Linked DNA regions of Homo sapiens. The protein of the gene in region 3 purifies or fractionates together with the protein of the main gene of each other region. This does not show direct contact. Each region holds a gene or a part of one and is shown on either strand. Other genes may lie near its edges.

Region 1 (4,282 bases), on a different chromosome or scaffold from region 3:
GATAAGCTGGTGGGTGGGGGGCAGCCAGTGAGTCAGAAGTACCCATTGGTCAGGTCAGAGATGAAATCACAGGGAGTCGAAGCTGTTTTCGCACTGAGTCAGTTCCTGGGTGCCACAACATCAGATGAGCCTGGGTGGTGCCAGGTGACCCACCAAGTGCTGATCTTAGGCTTTACGATGGTGATGTTATCGCCAGGAGCAGTTTGGGGAGGGTCAGAATCCTGTAGCCTCCCGCTGCGTGACTCTTCAACCGTAGTTTCTAATCTTGTGGCTAATCTGTTGGTCCCACAAAAGCAGGCTAATCCCCAGGAAAGGTTTCCTTTGGGAAAGGGCTGTTATCATCTTTGTTTTAAACTAAGTTCCTCCCACAGTTCAACCTGCGTGCAGCAGTAAACAAGGAGGGCATGGAGGTTAGAAGCAAAATGGAGCTGGTTATCTCACTGTCGGCAAATTTTGCAATGGCAGTTTCATAGAGATGCCTGTCCTCTGGGAAAAAAGCTAATAACAGGTTGTCTTTTTGGCTGCAGGTGGAAAACTGCATCTATTAGGAAGAGGTGGGGCTTTGTTCTTACCCACAATTGGAAGTTCTCTATGGAGTAAAGGCGGTATGTGTGCCACCTGATTCCTTTCCCCATGTGTATCTGGTTAGGGTCGGCCACGTGAGATCCGCAAGCATTTTAGAAGGTGGGAGGGGAGGTGGGAGCTGGCTACAGGCCAGGCGTTGGCGTGGTTCCGTGAGTGTGCTCCAGCCAGGCCCAAAGCTTCTCCTGCCCAGAGGGACCGTTTCCTCCAGCGTGGGTCGGGTGCTTCTGCGCCCGGAAAGAGCGCCAGCTCCTCCTTCGGGTGACCCAGGGAGCGGGGCTGCAGGCAAAGGCGCAGGCGGCCAAAAAGGTGCCAACCGGGTCCTGTGGCTTTCAGTTGTCTCTGCCCACCCAATTCACACCATCTTTCCCCCTCAGCCGCCTGTCCTGGGACTTCAGGCTCAGCACCAAACGCAGCAAAAGTAGGTGCACAGAGAGCGGGGTCAGCTCACGCAGCCCGAGCAGAATGGCTGTGCTGCCGCCCCAGGCCCGCGGCCACCGCTGTGTGTGTGGCAGGAGTCAGCCCCCCAGCGTGGGGCCCCGAAGCCCGCGGTCCTTCCACGGGGAGGGCCAGGCCCGCAGGGCGCAGACGATGGGGGACAGGCTGCGCCAGCGCTCGCCTGAGGCCCCGCACACAAACCTCAGGCCCATGGGTCCGCTCCGCGGGGCAGGCGTCGTGGGCCCAAGGAGGCCAGGCCAGGAGTCTCGGCCTCGGGGTTACGCGGCGGCGGGCAGCTCTTCCGCTCCGCTCAGGGTGCTGCTAACCCACAGCCAAGCAGCGACCCGCAGGACCGGCGAGAACCCCGCCACTGACTCCGGCCGGAAGAGAACGTGCAGAGATGTACGTCACTTCCGGGGCGTGGCGTGGCCGGGCGTGGCCGTCCCGCCCCTGGCGGCGTGCCTGGTGCCCTGTTCCGCGTCTGTGCGACCGTCCGTCCCGAGCGCGCAGCCGCGGCAGGTGCGGGGCGGGACCGGGGGCGCCCGGGGTGGGGGGCGTAGGGGGCGCTCGGGTTGGGGGTGGGACAGGGGACGCGCGGGGTGGGGGAGGAGACGGGACCCGGGGTACGCGGGGGTGGGGCGGGTGAGAGGTGCGCAGGGTAGGGGAGTAGGGGGCGCGCGGGGTGTGGGGCTGGACCAGGGGCGCGCGGGGTGGGGGCGGTGGGAGGCGCGCGGCGTGGGGGTTAGAGGGCGCGCAGGGTGGGGGACGGGACCGGGGACGCGCAGGGTGGGGGGCGGGACCGGGGGCGCGCGGGGTGGGGGCGGGACCGGGACGCACGCGGGATGGCGGAGTGGGAGGCGCGCGGGGTTGGGGGTGCTCCTGCGTCCGGTGTGCACCCCATGGCCCCCGCCAGGGAGACCGAGTCCGGGCCAGGGGCCGGAATCGCGGGGCGCGGGCCGGGGCTGGGGTTGGGGTTGGGATCGGGATCGGGATCGGGATCGGGATCCGGGTTCCCCGCGGCTTCAAGTTTTCTCTCGCTGTTACGAGGGCGTGGGAGGCGCGGCCGTGGGGTGGGGTGGGGCCAGGTCCGCGATGTGCTCACCCTGGTCTCTCAGGACCGTTGCCTTTGCGGCTATTTTTTGTGCAATCCCCGAAGCCTGCGTTTCCTGCTGCCTGGGTTCGGGGCGGGGGCATCGCGCAGGCCAGAACGGCCCCTGCGTCCGTAGGCCAGAGCCCCTGCCATCAGCCCCTTTAGGGTGCTCGCCGGCTGTCGGGTGTGGGGGTATGCCAGGCCCCGGAGGACTCGGCTTCCCCGCTAACCCGACCCGCCGCACCCCACCCAGGCCAGGTCAGAGCAGCCCACCATGGGATGGGGAGGGGGTGGAGGCTGCACCCCGCGCCCACCCATCCACCAGCAGCCGCCGGAGCGCCGCGTGGTCACCGTTGTCTTTCTCGGCCTCCTGCTGGACCTCCTGGCCTTCACGCTGCTGCTGCCCCTGCTGCCCGGGCTGTTGGAGAGCCACGGCCGTGCCCACGTGAGTCCTTGCCCTGCGGCCCACAGTGCCCCCTGCCCCCCAGGCCCATCAGACCTCCCCAGCCCTTATCGTGATTCCTCATCCCCTAGGACCCCCTCTATGGCTCCTGGCAGGGCGGGGTGGACTGGTTTGCCACCGCCATCGGGATGCCAGTGGAGAAGAGGTACAACAGTGTCCTGTTCGGAGGTATGGCTGGCTCTGTGCCCTTGGCGGGCTCTCTACGGTCCTATGTTTGGTGGACGTGGTCCAGCCCAGGCCCCTCCCCAATTCTCGGTCCTTGCCTTCCCACTCCCTGGGCTGGCATGTCTGGTGCCCTTGCCCACATGTCCTGGCTTCTGGGCATGATCCCTTGCCTCCGCGTGTCACGTTCAGATCCTTCCTCATCTCTCCATTGGGGCCCCCTCGGCTCAAGGGCCATGGCCTGTGAGTGTAGGGCCCAGCATGACTGGACCCTCAGGACGGGGCTGGACATTGGCCTTGAGGGCCCCAAGACCACAGCTCATGGTGCCAGGCAGCCCCATGATGGTGACATCTGTCTCTCAGGTCTCATTGGCTCGGCATTCTCTGTCCTGCAGTTTCTGTGTGCGCCACTCACTGGGGCCACCTCTGACTGCTTGGGGAGGCGCCCGGTGATGCTGCTGTGCCTGGTATGTTCCTGGGCCTGGGTGCCCATGGGGAAGCCTCCTCCCACCCAGCCAGTAGCCCCATGGGGTTAGGTGGGGAGAGGGAGGTGGCTGTGGGCCCCTCATGGCCACTGGTTGGCCCTCATCGCATCCTGGAGGGGGTTCTCGGGGGACCAGTGGCTCCTGTTCCAGAGCCAGGCTTTCAAGGAGCTGCTCCTGGCCCCTAGGAAGGCACTGAGAACGCAAGTGGCCCTCAGATGCTTCGAAATAGGGCAGGGTTGAGGGGTGTTGTCTGGGTTGCCAAGCCCTACTCTGAGCCACTCCTGGCCTTAAGCGACCGCCCCTGCCTCTTGGCCCCTGCCCCTGGGCAGATGGGTGTGGCCACCTCATATGCAGTCTGGGCCACCTCTCGGAGCTTTGCGGCCTTCCTGGCCTCCAGGCTGATTGGGGGCATCAGCAAAGGGAACGTCAGCCTCTCCACGGCCATCGTTGCTGACCTGGGCTCGCCTCTGGCCCGCAGTCAAGGCATGGTAAGTGCACAGGCTGGGCCTTTGGGGTCCTGGTGGTGACTTCTGGGCCTGGGTCTCCCTGTGCAGCTCGGGTGGTCTTTTCCCTAGGCGGTCATTGGGGTGGCCTTCTCACTGGGCTTCACCCTGGGCCCTATGCTCGGAGCCTCCCTGCCCCTGGAAATGGCACCCTGGTTTGCCCTGCTCTTCGCAGCCTCCGACCTGCTGTTCATCTTCTGCTTCCTGCCAGAGACGCTGCCCCTGGAGAAACGGGTAGGGCTGTGGTCTGGGACCCACAGGCCTAGGGGCTGGAGGCTTGATTCCATAGCGATGTAAAGTGCCCCTGTGTGCCAGCCCCAGATGCCAGGGAGGCTGGGCCGCTCTCTTGGTGTTGGGACCCTTGAGGCCACAGTCCGTGGGTTGCCAGGCCAGCAGCCGCTCCTGCAGGCTCTCCAATGCCATCCCCACAGGCGCCCTCTATCGCCCTGGGGTTCCGTGATGCGGCTGATCTGCTCAGCCCCCTGGCCCTGCTGCGCTTCTCGGCTGTCGCTCGTGGCCAGGACCCACCCTCTGGAGACAGTAAGGACTCGACCAACCC
Region 2 (3,500 bases), on a different chromosome or scaffold from region 3:
CAAAAAGCTGCCAGTTTACCACCTGCTGAGCAGTGGGTTCTAGGAGGTAAAGGATGGCCAGTGGCCCCTGAAAGAACCATAACTAACCTTGCTGTGTCTGCATGATGTGCAAAGAACTAGCCCACTGAGTGAAATCAAATACTGGTTTGTTGAGTGATGGAAAAAATCAAGGCTCATTGCTTGTCTAACATGGTTATTCAGTTCTCTCAAAGAGGGTGAATGCATGGGATATAAAAAAAAAATACTATTTTTTTCTTCAAGGTGGTGGAATTTCCTGTACATCTGTAGTGCTTTATACAGATGAACCTTTTACATCTGGAACCCTCGAGACTGGGGGAGTTTTTCTGGTTAGGTGGAGGGAGGTTCTGGGCTTCCACAAATGAATTAGGTGCTGGCTCTCGAGTTTATTTCCTTTCACTTAACATTTACCTTCTTGGCCTGGTATAAGGGTAGATTAGCGGTGATCGTAAAACAAAACATACTGGCACAACTGCAGCATATGTTAACACTGCTGCAGCTTAATGATGAATGAGTGCTCAGCACTGCAGATATGGGCACAGGATGCCCTATGCCCACACATTGGCAGACAGCCCCTCAATTATTGCAGTGTATGGACGGATTACTGGGTCGGCTGACTTCTTGATAATAGAAGATGTGATTTATAAATGATAATGGACCGTGGATTTCCAGATTTAGAAGGTTAACCTGTATTTGTGAAGTAGAAATCATTGATTTCTTGTGCCATATGTATTTAATGGAATATGGGAGGATTGGTGATGTTGATGATATTGCTGTTCAAGCAGATATCATCATTTGTTTTTTAGACGTCTCTATTATATGTTGTCATAAAGTATTAATGTGGCAATGTTTTCCTAGTCCCTTTCTCTTTACCAAGGTATTCTTGGAAAAATCAGAAGTGTTCTTGAAAATGATCTTGCAGTTAGCACAGCATCAGGTAAACAGTAGATGTTCAATTAATACTTGTTTAATTGTTTTGAGCTGAATTGGTAACACAGTCTGAGTCAGTAATAACAGATGAAGAATGATCAGTTTAGGAAGCAGCCACCAAGAAGCTTATGCATTTCAGACTGGGCTACAAAATTAGCCAGGAGTGGTAGCACAGGCCTGTAATCCCAGCTACTTGAGAGGCTGAGGCGGGAGAATCACTTGAACCTGGGAGGCAGAGGTTGCACTGAGCCGAGATCGTGCCATTGCACTCCAGCCTGGGCAACAAGAGCAAAACTCCATCTCAAATAATAATAATCCTGTATGCTTACTATAAATACAGATTCCTGGGCCTTGAACTTACTGAATCCAAGTCTTGGGTGACAGACTCCAAGAAACTGTTTTTAACAAGCATTCCAAGTGGTTCTTAGGTTCACTAAAATTTGAGAACAGCAATATATAATATAGTAAACACGGAAATATTTATTTTCTGGGCACACTCTCTGTTCACCTTTTTGAACTTCAGTTTCTTCATCGATAGAATGGGAATAATAATACCTATTTCACAAGACTGTTGAAAAAAACGTTTGGTAGACTATTCAACACTATACCAATTGTGACAGAGGTCCTCAAAACCGGCCTAGGTTTGTTGATTCACTGGCAGAACTCAGTACATAGAAACGCTTGCGGATGTGATTTATTATAGCAAAAGGATACAGAGCAAAGTCAGTAACGGGAAAAGGCTCATTGGGGCCAAGTCTGGAGGAAACCATGTGCAAGCTTCCAGTCCTCTTTCACTGAAATCACACAGGTCATGCTTAATTCCTCTAGCAAATGAGTTTTGACAACTTGTGTGAAATGTCTACTAGGGAAGCTTATTAGAGATTCAGTACCCAGGGTTTTTAGTGGGAGCTGGTCACACAGGCACCCTCCACCTGGTACACAGCAAAATTCCAGACCCCAAGGAGGAAAGCAGGTATTCAGTGTAAACCCTATTGTTTACACAGCTTAAGCAGAGTGAGCCACTCTTATCAGGGTGATGGAAACCCTCCCAAAATCCAAGTCCCCAGACACCAGCCAAGGACCAACCTTGCAAACAGGCCTTACTAAGAATAGCAGTGTCAGGCCTGCTATGTTAACTCTTTCCATCACGCAAATATTGTGAAACACTGGTATTTTTTCAGTGAAAGGAAATGACTTGTCCAAGATCATTAAGCTAATCAGCAGTACAGCTGAGACAGACTCCCAGCAATCACATCTTTTCTTTGCTGCCCATAGCCATGCTTCTAGATTATGGGTCATTCCTTTTCATACTGTCATTGAAAGCACTTACTGTTTGTCACTTGAAGCAGAAGAGCAGCCTGCCGGTGGTAAATTGATGCACCCAGTGGGGGAGCCAGGAAGTATTGATGTTTCTGCCAGTTTAGCGTCAACACTTGCTGGTTTCCTCTCTGGAGCATCGCCAAGTTCGTGGATTTTCATTTTTCCTGACTTTTGGACTTTTGTTACTGCTCCCATTCATTTGCTCATAGTCCTAATACTCATTTGCATCATCACTTCATCCCATTCTATACCTTTTGGGTAACACAATTTCCAAATGGTGGGAATACTGCAGTATTTTGTCAAAGAAGACTATATAGGAAAAAAAAAATTCTGAGCAATGAATTTTATGGCAATATTTACAAATATTGGTTTATATCCTGGATTGTCTTTTGAGTTTTATAGTCATGGAAAACCCTAGGGATATCTCTGGTTATTTGGAGTTTCAGCCATTTTTACTGTTATAAAGGAAAATTAACAAATTTGTTATGATTGGAGCAAGGAATAAGGAAATCATACTGGATGGTGCAGTAATCCCACATATCGACAGGGAGTAGAAGCCAGGAGGGAATTGCCACAAGTAAGTAACAGCTGGGTAGAGCAGATTATGTAAGCTACACCTGTTGTGTAAGCAGTGGGGACGTTCTTTAAGCTTCACAATTAATGTATTTTGCAGTAATAAGGATTAAGGGATCTATAGTATAGTGTACAATTTATTCTGGCTTCTTTTCTGAAAACATTCATGTGAATCACAGCTTTCTTGGAACACTCATCCCCTATTTGGTGCTGTAGAGGTGTGTAAGGTACAGCCCTGCTCACCAGTAGCCTGCAGTTTGGTAGAAGAGAGAGAAGACCAGCACACAGGACCATCCTCCACACAAGGCCAGTAGGTCACCAGAGCCATCCTTTTGAAGGACATACACAGTAAGTGCAGTAGGCATTCAGAAGGAGGCACTGGCTCTCTGGCTTCATTTCTTGGGGAGAGCTTTATGGAGGAAGTAGCCTGTCAACTGGGCCTCTGGGGACCCAAAGGGCTGAAGGTTCTGAGATTTTAGGGATGGGCAGTCTCATTACAGGAGGAGGCAATTACCTGAGCAATGGTGCAGGGTCATTGTTGTACTTAAAGCATGGGAACCAGTCAATTTAGAGAACATACATGCCAACCCCAAATGAGTTTGAGCTGTTATAAAAAAAAGTATAACAGGTGGGGCTCAGTGGCTCACGCCTGTAATCCC
Region 3 (3,500 bases):
GCTGGTCAGGAAAGCCCTGCAGGACATGAGTGTTAGGCCCGACGCCTGGCCCTTGGCAGCTTGGGAGGTGGCTGGGGCTGCTTTTGCCTTTGCCAGAGACAGCTCCAACTGAGGACCTCTCCAACGGGCCCATCCACAGTCCTTCCTTCCCCTAGTGTCTGGTAAGTGTGGGGACAGGAAGGAGGAGGGGTAGGTGGTGGCCTTGAAGTGTTGGGCTGGTGTGTTCCATTGGGTGGTGCCACTGGGGGATTTTAAAGGGAAGCCAAGAACATCTGTGTTCCAGAGGTCACTCTTGTGACACTCTGTTCAGAGTCAGCAGCCCCATGACTCTGGCATCACAACCCCCACTACCTCCAGCCATTGCCAAGTCTCTTAGAAGGTTGAGAAAGTCACTTGGCTGTCTGTGGGATGCTCCCATGTTCTTGGGCTTTCCACTCATTCATGCTTCCTGTGCTTCGTGTGTGTGTGTGTGTGTGTGTGTGTGTGTGTGTGTGTAGGTAGGTAGGTAGGTAGGTAGGTGTCCATGTGTGATTGTCCCCAGCACTCTAGGCCTAGGGGTTACCCAACATACACACCTCACCAGCACTACTGGTATCCAAACATCTGTTTGGGTTCTCTATATCTTTTCTTCTTGTTCTCAAGATCTTTGTCCCTGTAACAGCTAGAAGCACCAGACTTAGCAGAAAAATCCCCTGGGAATTCTAGATTTACCAGATTTGGGCAGGTAGGATCTTAAGCAAGTCCAGGCTGAATATGTGTTCTGGCCCTTCAGCCACAGCATGAGAACTTGGACACTAACTCCCGGTCCTCTGGTGTCAGGGGACAGACACTGGAGATTTCTATTAGCTTCACCAGGGGCGCCAGGAGCCTCAGGAAGGAAAGGTCAACAACCCAGCCTGGAGCAGTGTTTGCTTTGGAAATGCTGGGCCTTGCAGTTAGACTGATGGTACCCAGGAGGGGTATGTGTGTGTGAAAGCGCAGAGCTAGGGGACCCAGAGGTCCCTGAGGAGGCCCTGGGACTCCTGACTCCCTCCCCGTCCCTACCCTAGACCACCCCCTTTACTTTCTCCTCTGTGGCAAAGTAAAAAGAGAAGTGGCATCTGAGAGTCAGGATATTGGGTTTGGGATTCAATTCTGCCCTGACCAGCTCCTTAACCTTAACTTTGGGGCAAGTTATTAAACCTCTGAGGCTTGGTTTCCAAGTATAGCAGATGGACCCATCTCTGAGGTCCCAGCTCTGACATTCTGTGAGCAGTGGGAGTGAGGTGTTGTCTGTGGCTCGTGGATGGACCATCGTGAATACTTGGATGTTCCCTTCTTCCCTGGTTGTTTATCCCGGTGTTTTCCTCTTCCTGCCTTTGTGTGCCTTTCTCCCTCTCCTCTGCCTGTACTCTAGATCCGCCAGTGGCTTCTGCAGGAGTGACTTTCCCAACACGAGTCCTCGAGGCTAGAGGAACTTTAGGACTTCTTAAGACAGCAGCTGCAGCAACTCTGTCCCTCCTTTGCTCCATGTCGCCCCCTCTGGGGATCTGCCCACTGTGTCCTGGATGAGCCATCCACTCTGACCATCTGATCCCCTGAGATTGTCCCACAATGCAGCCATTCTCTGTGGACACTGCCAGGCACGCAGAGGTCCAATGTCTGGCTCTCCCGGACTCCTTGCTGCTGGCTCACTGCCCGATCAGTCCCTGGGAAACGCCTGCCTTTGGCTCTGCCAGCACTGGTGGGAACCTGCAAGAAATTTGAGCCCTGAACGTCTGCCTTGTCCTGTTGTCCTGTGCTCCAGGGAAGACAGGCGCGATGATGGACTCCCCGTTCCTGGAGCTGTGGCAGTCCAAGGCAGTGTCCATCAGGGAGCAGCTGGGACTCGGGGACCGGCCCAACGACTCCTATTGCTACAACTCGGCCAAAAACAGCACCGTGCTCCAGGGGGTCACCTTTGGTGGCATCCCCACTGTCCTGCTCATAGACGTCAGCTGCTTCCTGGTGAGAGCCCTCATGAGTCGTGTCCCACTGCCTCAGTTATTTGTTTAAATGCCCCACCCAGGGCCTTCTGGGAAACTTAGATGAGAAGTCAGACATAGCTGGGTTTAAATCTCAACTCTGCTGCTTACCAGCTCTGTGACTTAGGCGTGTTACTTAGCTTCTGTGCACCTCCCCTTTCTGCTCCGGAAATGGAGATCATAATTCCTATCTCAGAGAATTTTGGAATTTGGATAAGGCCAGAATACTCATATAGCTATGCCTGTGATTACTACCGTGATTGCAGAGCTCTCAGCCTGTCGTATCTTTAAGGCCCTTGGGAAGGGTCATCTCAAGGGGTTGAGACATGTGACTGGAGAGTACGGACTAGAATAGAGCAGCTGCAGTTCCCAAGTGTCACCTCCTGTTCCCCTCTGGCATCCCTGGGGTTTTTAAAGAATCAGAAGCTGGGCCAGGTACGGTGGCTCATGCCTGTAATCTCAGCACTTTGGGAGGCTGAGGCGAGTAGATTGCCTGAGGTCAGGAGTTCGAGACCAGCCTGGCTAACATGGTGAAACCCTGTCTCTACTAAAAATACAAAAAATTAGCCGGGTGTGGTGGTCGGCGCCTGTAATCCCGGCTACTCTGGAGGCCGAGGCAGGAGAATTGCTTGAACCTGGGAGGCAGAGTTGCAATGAGCCGAGATCACGCCACTGCACTCCAGCCTGTGCAACAAGAGCGAGACGCTGTCTCAAAAAAAACCAAAAAAACAAAAAAAAGAATTAGAAGCTGATTCTTAGAGCGTACCTTCAGCAGGTGGCCTTTCTTTAACGTAGATCTCCTTGTTCACAAAGATGCCCCATGGCATTGTTCTTCCTTATGCAGACTCAACGTTGGCTGGCTGAGATTTATTGGGGTTAAAGTGCCCCTTCTTTTCACAAATGCCATGGGCTGGCCAGTGCCTCTTGATACTGTCTCCTAACATGTGGCAGAGACCATCTGAGTGAAGGGGGCAGATGGCTCTGATGGAGTAAACATCCTTGGACTGCTTGGAGCTGGAGACTAGGCTCGGGTGGGGAACATGGGGAGGGTGGCTTAGGGTAGCAAGGAGGAGTGGGCAGGGGTGTGGGGGTGGATTTCAGAATTGGTGGGATTAGAGGAGGGTGGCCTTGGGTCTTCAGGGTGGGGAGAGTTTGGCCAAGGTGAGGAGTACAGAGAGGGGGACCTGGGCAGGGACCCTAGCTGGGCTGGGTGGGTATTGTTGCAACAGTGTTGGCTGAGAAGAGAGTCACCCTCTATTGTGCTGCTGAAGGTGAATTTTTTTTTTTTTTTTTTTTTTTTTTTTTTTTTTTTTTGAGACAAGGTCTCACTGTCACCCAGGCTGAAGTACAGTGGCATAATCACAATTCACTGCGACTTCCTCCTCCTGGGCTCAAGCAATCCTCCCACCTCAGCCTCCTGCATAGCTGGGACTACAAGCACATGCCACCGTGTCTGGGTTATTTTTGTATTTTTGGTAGAGATGGGATTTCACACCA
Region 4 (3,500 bases), on a different chromosome or scaffold from region 3:
GAAGGCAGAGGCTGCAGTGAGCCATGTTCACTCCAGCCTGAGTGACATGAGACCCTGTCTCCAAAACACTAACAACAAAAAACAAACACATACTATTTACATAGCACTTACCTTGTATGAGGTATAAGTAACCTAGAGATGATTTAAAGTATATGAGAGTATGTGCATAGGTTATATGCAAAGAGTACACCATTTTATAGCAAAGACTTGAGCATCTGTACAGATTTTGGTATCTGTGGGTGATGTTCCTAGAATTCATTTACTGTGGATACCAAGAGACAACTGTATATATATGTATCTGAATTTGAAGGCCAAATTTACATTACTTAAAATTTTTTAATCTATTTTTGTTTTTAACATACCCATTTAATTTATATTAATATTTGAATATATATACTTAACATACCTATACTCAACTCTGCAGTTCTGAATCCAAAGAGATACTGAGAGTCTTTTTTTGAGACAGAGTTTCACTCTGTCACCCAGACTGGAGTGCAGTGGCGTGATCTCGGCTCACTGCAACCTCTGCCTCCTGGGTTCAAGCAATTCTCCTGCCTCGGCCTCCCAAGTAGCTGGGATTACAGGTGCCTACCACCACGCTTGGCTAATTTTTAAAAATGTATTTTTAGTAAAGACGAGGTTTCACCATTTTGGCCAGGCTGGTCTTGAACTCCTGACCTCAAGTGATCCACCCGCTTCGGCCTCCCAAAGTGCTGGGATTACAGGCGTGAGCCACTACGCCCAGCCGATACCAAAAGTCTTAATTTTAGGTATACTCCTTTACAGATTTCTAGTACCTAGAAACTCTATTTGATTTCGATTTCTTGAAAGTTCTGAGAAAAATTTCAATGAATCCTTAAGAAAAAATAGTCAAATGTCAAAGGTGACATTTGGAAATAAGGCATAGATATACAACTTGGTTTCTGTAACTTATATTGTTCTTTAGTCTTGATTTAAAGTGCAGGAACAAAGATGTTTAAATAAAAACCACTGATGACGTATTATTGTGGTGAAGGGTATACTGCTCATTAAGCTGATACATGTATACTTGGTGGTTCTCCTTTAGAGGCACCAAATAAACATAATGTACCCTAAAGAAAAATGTGAGCAGTTAAAATTTTAAGTGAGGTGAATCTTGTTTTTTCCCTAATAAAATTAAAACAAAAAACAAACCGAGACAGGTTTCACCATTGTTGCCCATGCTGGTTTCAAATTCCTGGACTCAAGCAATCCACCTGCCTCAGCCTCCCAAAGTGCTAGGATGACCACTGTAAGCCACCATCCCCAGCCACTAAGTGAGGTCAATCTTATGTCAATTAACACAAAATAAATAAAAGGCTTGCATGTAACATTAACACTAAAAAAAGAAAAAAACCCCATTAATGTTCTTTAACTTAACCCCACAAGAACTGCTGTCTAATACAACAGCCCCTCAGCACATGAGGATACTGAGCACTTGAAATGTGGCTAGTCTGAATTGAGATGTGCTGTAAATTTGAATATATAGTACAAAGAAAATAATGTAAAATAGTTCAACTTTTTTCATACTGATTGCATGGTGATATGACAATATCTTGGAAATATATTGGATAACAAGTAAATCTGATCAGCTTTTTACTTTTTTTAAGAGACAGGATTTACCCTGTTGCCCAGGCTAAAGTACAGTGGTGCAATCATAGCTCACTGCAGCCTAAACTGGGCTTATGAGATCCTCCTGCCTCAGTATCCTGAGTGGCTGGGACTACAGGCGTGCACACCACCACACCAAGCTAATTAAAAAAATTTTTTTTTCTGGAGACAGGGTCTTGCTATGTTTTCCAGGGTGGTCTTTAACTCCCGGCCTCAAGTGATCCTCCCCACCTTGGCCTCCCAAAGAACTGGGATTACAGGCATGAGCCATCTTTTTACTTTTTAAATGTGGCTAATAGAAAATTTGAAATTACATATATGCCTTGCCTCTTGTCTCATATTTCTATTAAACAATGCTGCCCTAGAACAATCCTGACAGGGAAGCTTCATGATTTTTAAGTTATCAATCCTAACCTTTTATATTTCAACAAAAATGAAAGATCCTCAACAACGAAAAATAGTATTCTCAATTTCTAAATTCTTCCTTTCAAACCACAAAGAACCTGCATCTCTGACCCTAGTTCTGGAGCAATAGCTGACTGAAAAATAGCTAATGCAGACAGAGGGCTTTACTTCTAGAGTCGTTTCTTAAATTAGATTTTCTGATTTCGAAGTCTATTAACTATGAGTTTATTTTATTTTTCAACATAATAAAAACACATATCTAAATTTGACAACTAATGTAGACTACTTAAAATGTTTTAATCTAGAAAAACAAGATTTTAAAAAGTCTGAATGATAATTCTGAAAATACATTTTTTAAAGTAGTATTTTGGGGGTTATATGGCATATATTTCTAGGAAGACAACAGGTCTTTGAAAACAGATGCACAAAAATTGTAGAGAGTATAAAAATGGACATATACTGGCATAATCATGCAGATACCCAACATGAACAGGATTCACACAGAACCCATGACTAAGTATTAGTTCTTTCAACAGTATTTACTGGGTACCTACTATGTGCTGGGCATGATATTAGATAGTGGGATATACTAATAAGTAAAATTAAATGTGACTCTTGCTCTCATGGAGAAAGATTATGCTTTAATCGAGAAAAAGAAACATTAAGTAATTACACAAATATAAGAAAAAACTACAAATGTCATAGGTGCTATGAATACAGCACATGGCACTGCAACAGGATATAATTAGGGGCACCCGAGCTAATTATATTATCTTTAGAGAGTGAGGGCAGGCTACCCTAAGGAAGATCTGAAGGAGAAGGTGAGAAGGGGCGTGGTTAGAAAAGAAAAGAGTCCGCATGTGGAGACACAGGTGGGGCCAGACTAAAGACCATGGGAAGCCCATGAAGGAATATAAGCAGAAGAGGTGCATATGATTGATCACACTTAAGTTTGCAAAGACCTTGTGGGCTACAGCATGGTAGTATGGAGAAGGATGGTGTTCTGGATGGCGGTGGTAGAGATGGAGAGAAATGGAGGAACACAAAAGCTAAAATCAACAGGCCCTGTCATGGATTGGATATATGCATGTGGAGAATGTCAGGGCTGATGTCAGGGTTTCAGCTTCTGTACAACAGTGCTAGCCACCTGTATCTCCAGTATATTTCAAAAGAGAGCTCAGGAGTATCAAATGCTGCTGATGGGTTAAGTGTGACAAGTGGTCATTTAACATGACCACTGGCTTCAATGACATAGAGGTGGCTAGATGTTAAGATGAAGTAGACTGGGTGCAGTGGCTCACGTCTGTAATCGCAGCACTTTGGGTGGATCACCTGAGGTCAGGAGTTCAAGACCAGCCTGGCCAACATGGTGAAACCTCATCTCTACTAAAAATACAAAAACTAGCTGGGTGTGGTAGCGCCCACCTGTAATCCCAGCTACTTGGGAGGCTGAGGCAGGAGAATCA

Evidence for each region. Proteins that work in one complex are often made in the same cells at the same time.
Region 1: the proteins of TMEM63A (region 3) and SLC75A1 purify together in Homo sapiens (affinity purification with mass spectrometry; 2 studies listed by BioGRID and IntAct, with this or other methods). This does not show direct contact.
Region 2: the proteins of TMEM63A (region 3) and ATP11C purify together in Homo sapiens (affinity purification with mass spectrometry; 2 studies listed by BioGRID and IntAct, with this or other methods). This does not show direct contact.
Region 4: the proteins of TMEM63A (region 3) and ALG5 purify together in Homo sapiens (affinity purification with mass spectrometry; 2 studies listed by BioGRID and IntAct, with this or other methods). This does not show direct contact.

The regions. Positions count from the first base shown.
Region 1 is NC_000004.12:2,932,026-2,936,307, reverse strand, and holds the start of SLC75A1 (major facilitator superfamily domain-containing protein 10), read left to right. Parts: upstream 1-1,482; 5' UTR 1,483-1,539; intron 1,540-2,120; exon of another isoform or gene 2,121-2,363; 5' UTR 2,364-2,384; coding exon 2,385-2,555; intron 2,556-2,644; coding exon 2,645-2,741; intron 2,742-3,098; coding exon 3,099-3,202; intron 3,203-3,549; coding exon 3,550-3,708; intron 3,709-3,795; coding exon 3,796-3,957; intron 3,958-4,154; coding exon 4,155-4,263; intron 4,264-4,282. UniProt on the Homo sapiens protein: Probable organic anion transporter which may serve as a transporter for some non-steroidal anti-inflammatory drugs (NSAIDs) as well as other organic anions across the luminal membranes of renal proximal tubules at the final excretion step into the urine.
Region 2 is NC_000023.11:139,923,054-139,926,553, reverse strand, and holds part of ATP11C (phospholipid-transporting ATPase IG), read left to right. Parts: intron 1-2,322; exon of another isoform or gene 2,323-2,406; intron 2,407-3,500. UniProt on the Homo sapiens protein: Catalytic component of a P4-ATPase flippase complex which catalyzes the hydrolysis of ATP coupled to the transport of aminophospholipids, phosphatidylserines (PS) and phosphatidylethanolamines (PE), from the outer to the inner leaflet of the plasma membrane.
Region 3 is NC_000001.11:225,875,881-225,879,380, reverse strand, and holds part of TMEM63A (mechanosensitive cation channel TMEM63A), read left to right. Parts: 5' UTR 1-161; intron 162-1,786; 5' UTR 1,787-1,800; coding exon 1,801-1,986; intron 1,987-3,500. UniProt on the Homo sapiens protein: Mechanosensitive cation channel with low conductance and high activation threshold. In contrast to TMEM63B, does not show phospholipid scramblase activity. Acts as a regulator of lysosomal morphology by mediating lysosomal mechanosensitivity.
Region 4 is NC_000013.11:36,961,341-36,964,840, forward strand, and holds part of ALG5 (dolichyl-phosphate beta-glucosyltransferase), read right to left. Parts: intron 1-3,500. UniProt on the Homo sapiens protein: Dolichyl-phosphate beta-glucosyltransferase that operates in the biosynthetic pathway of dolichol-linked oligosaccharides, the glycan precursors employed in protein asparagine (N)-glycosylation.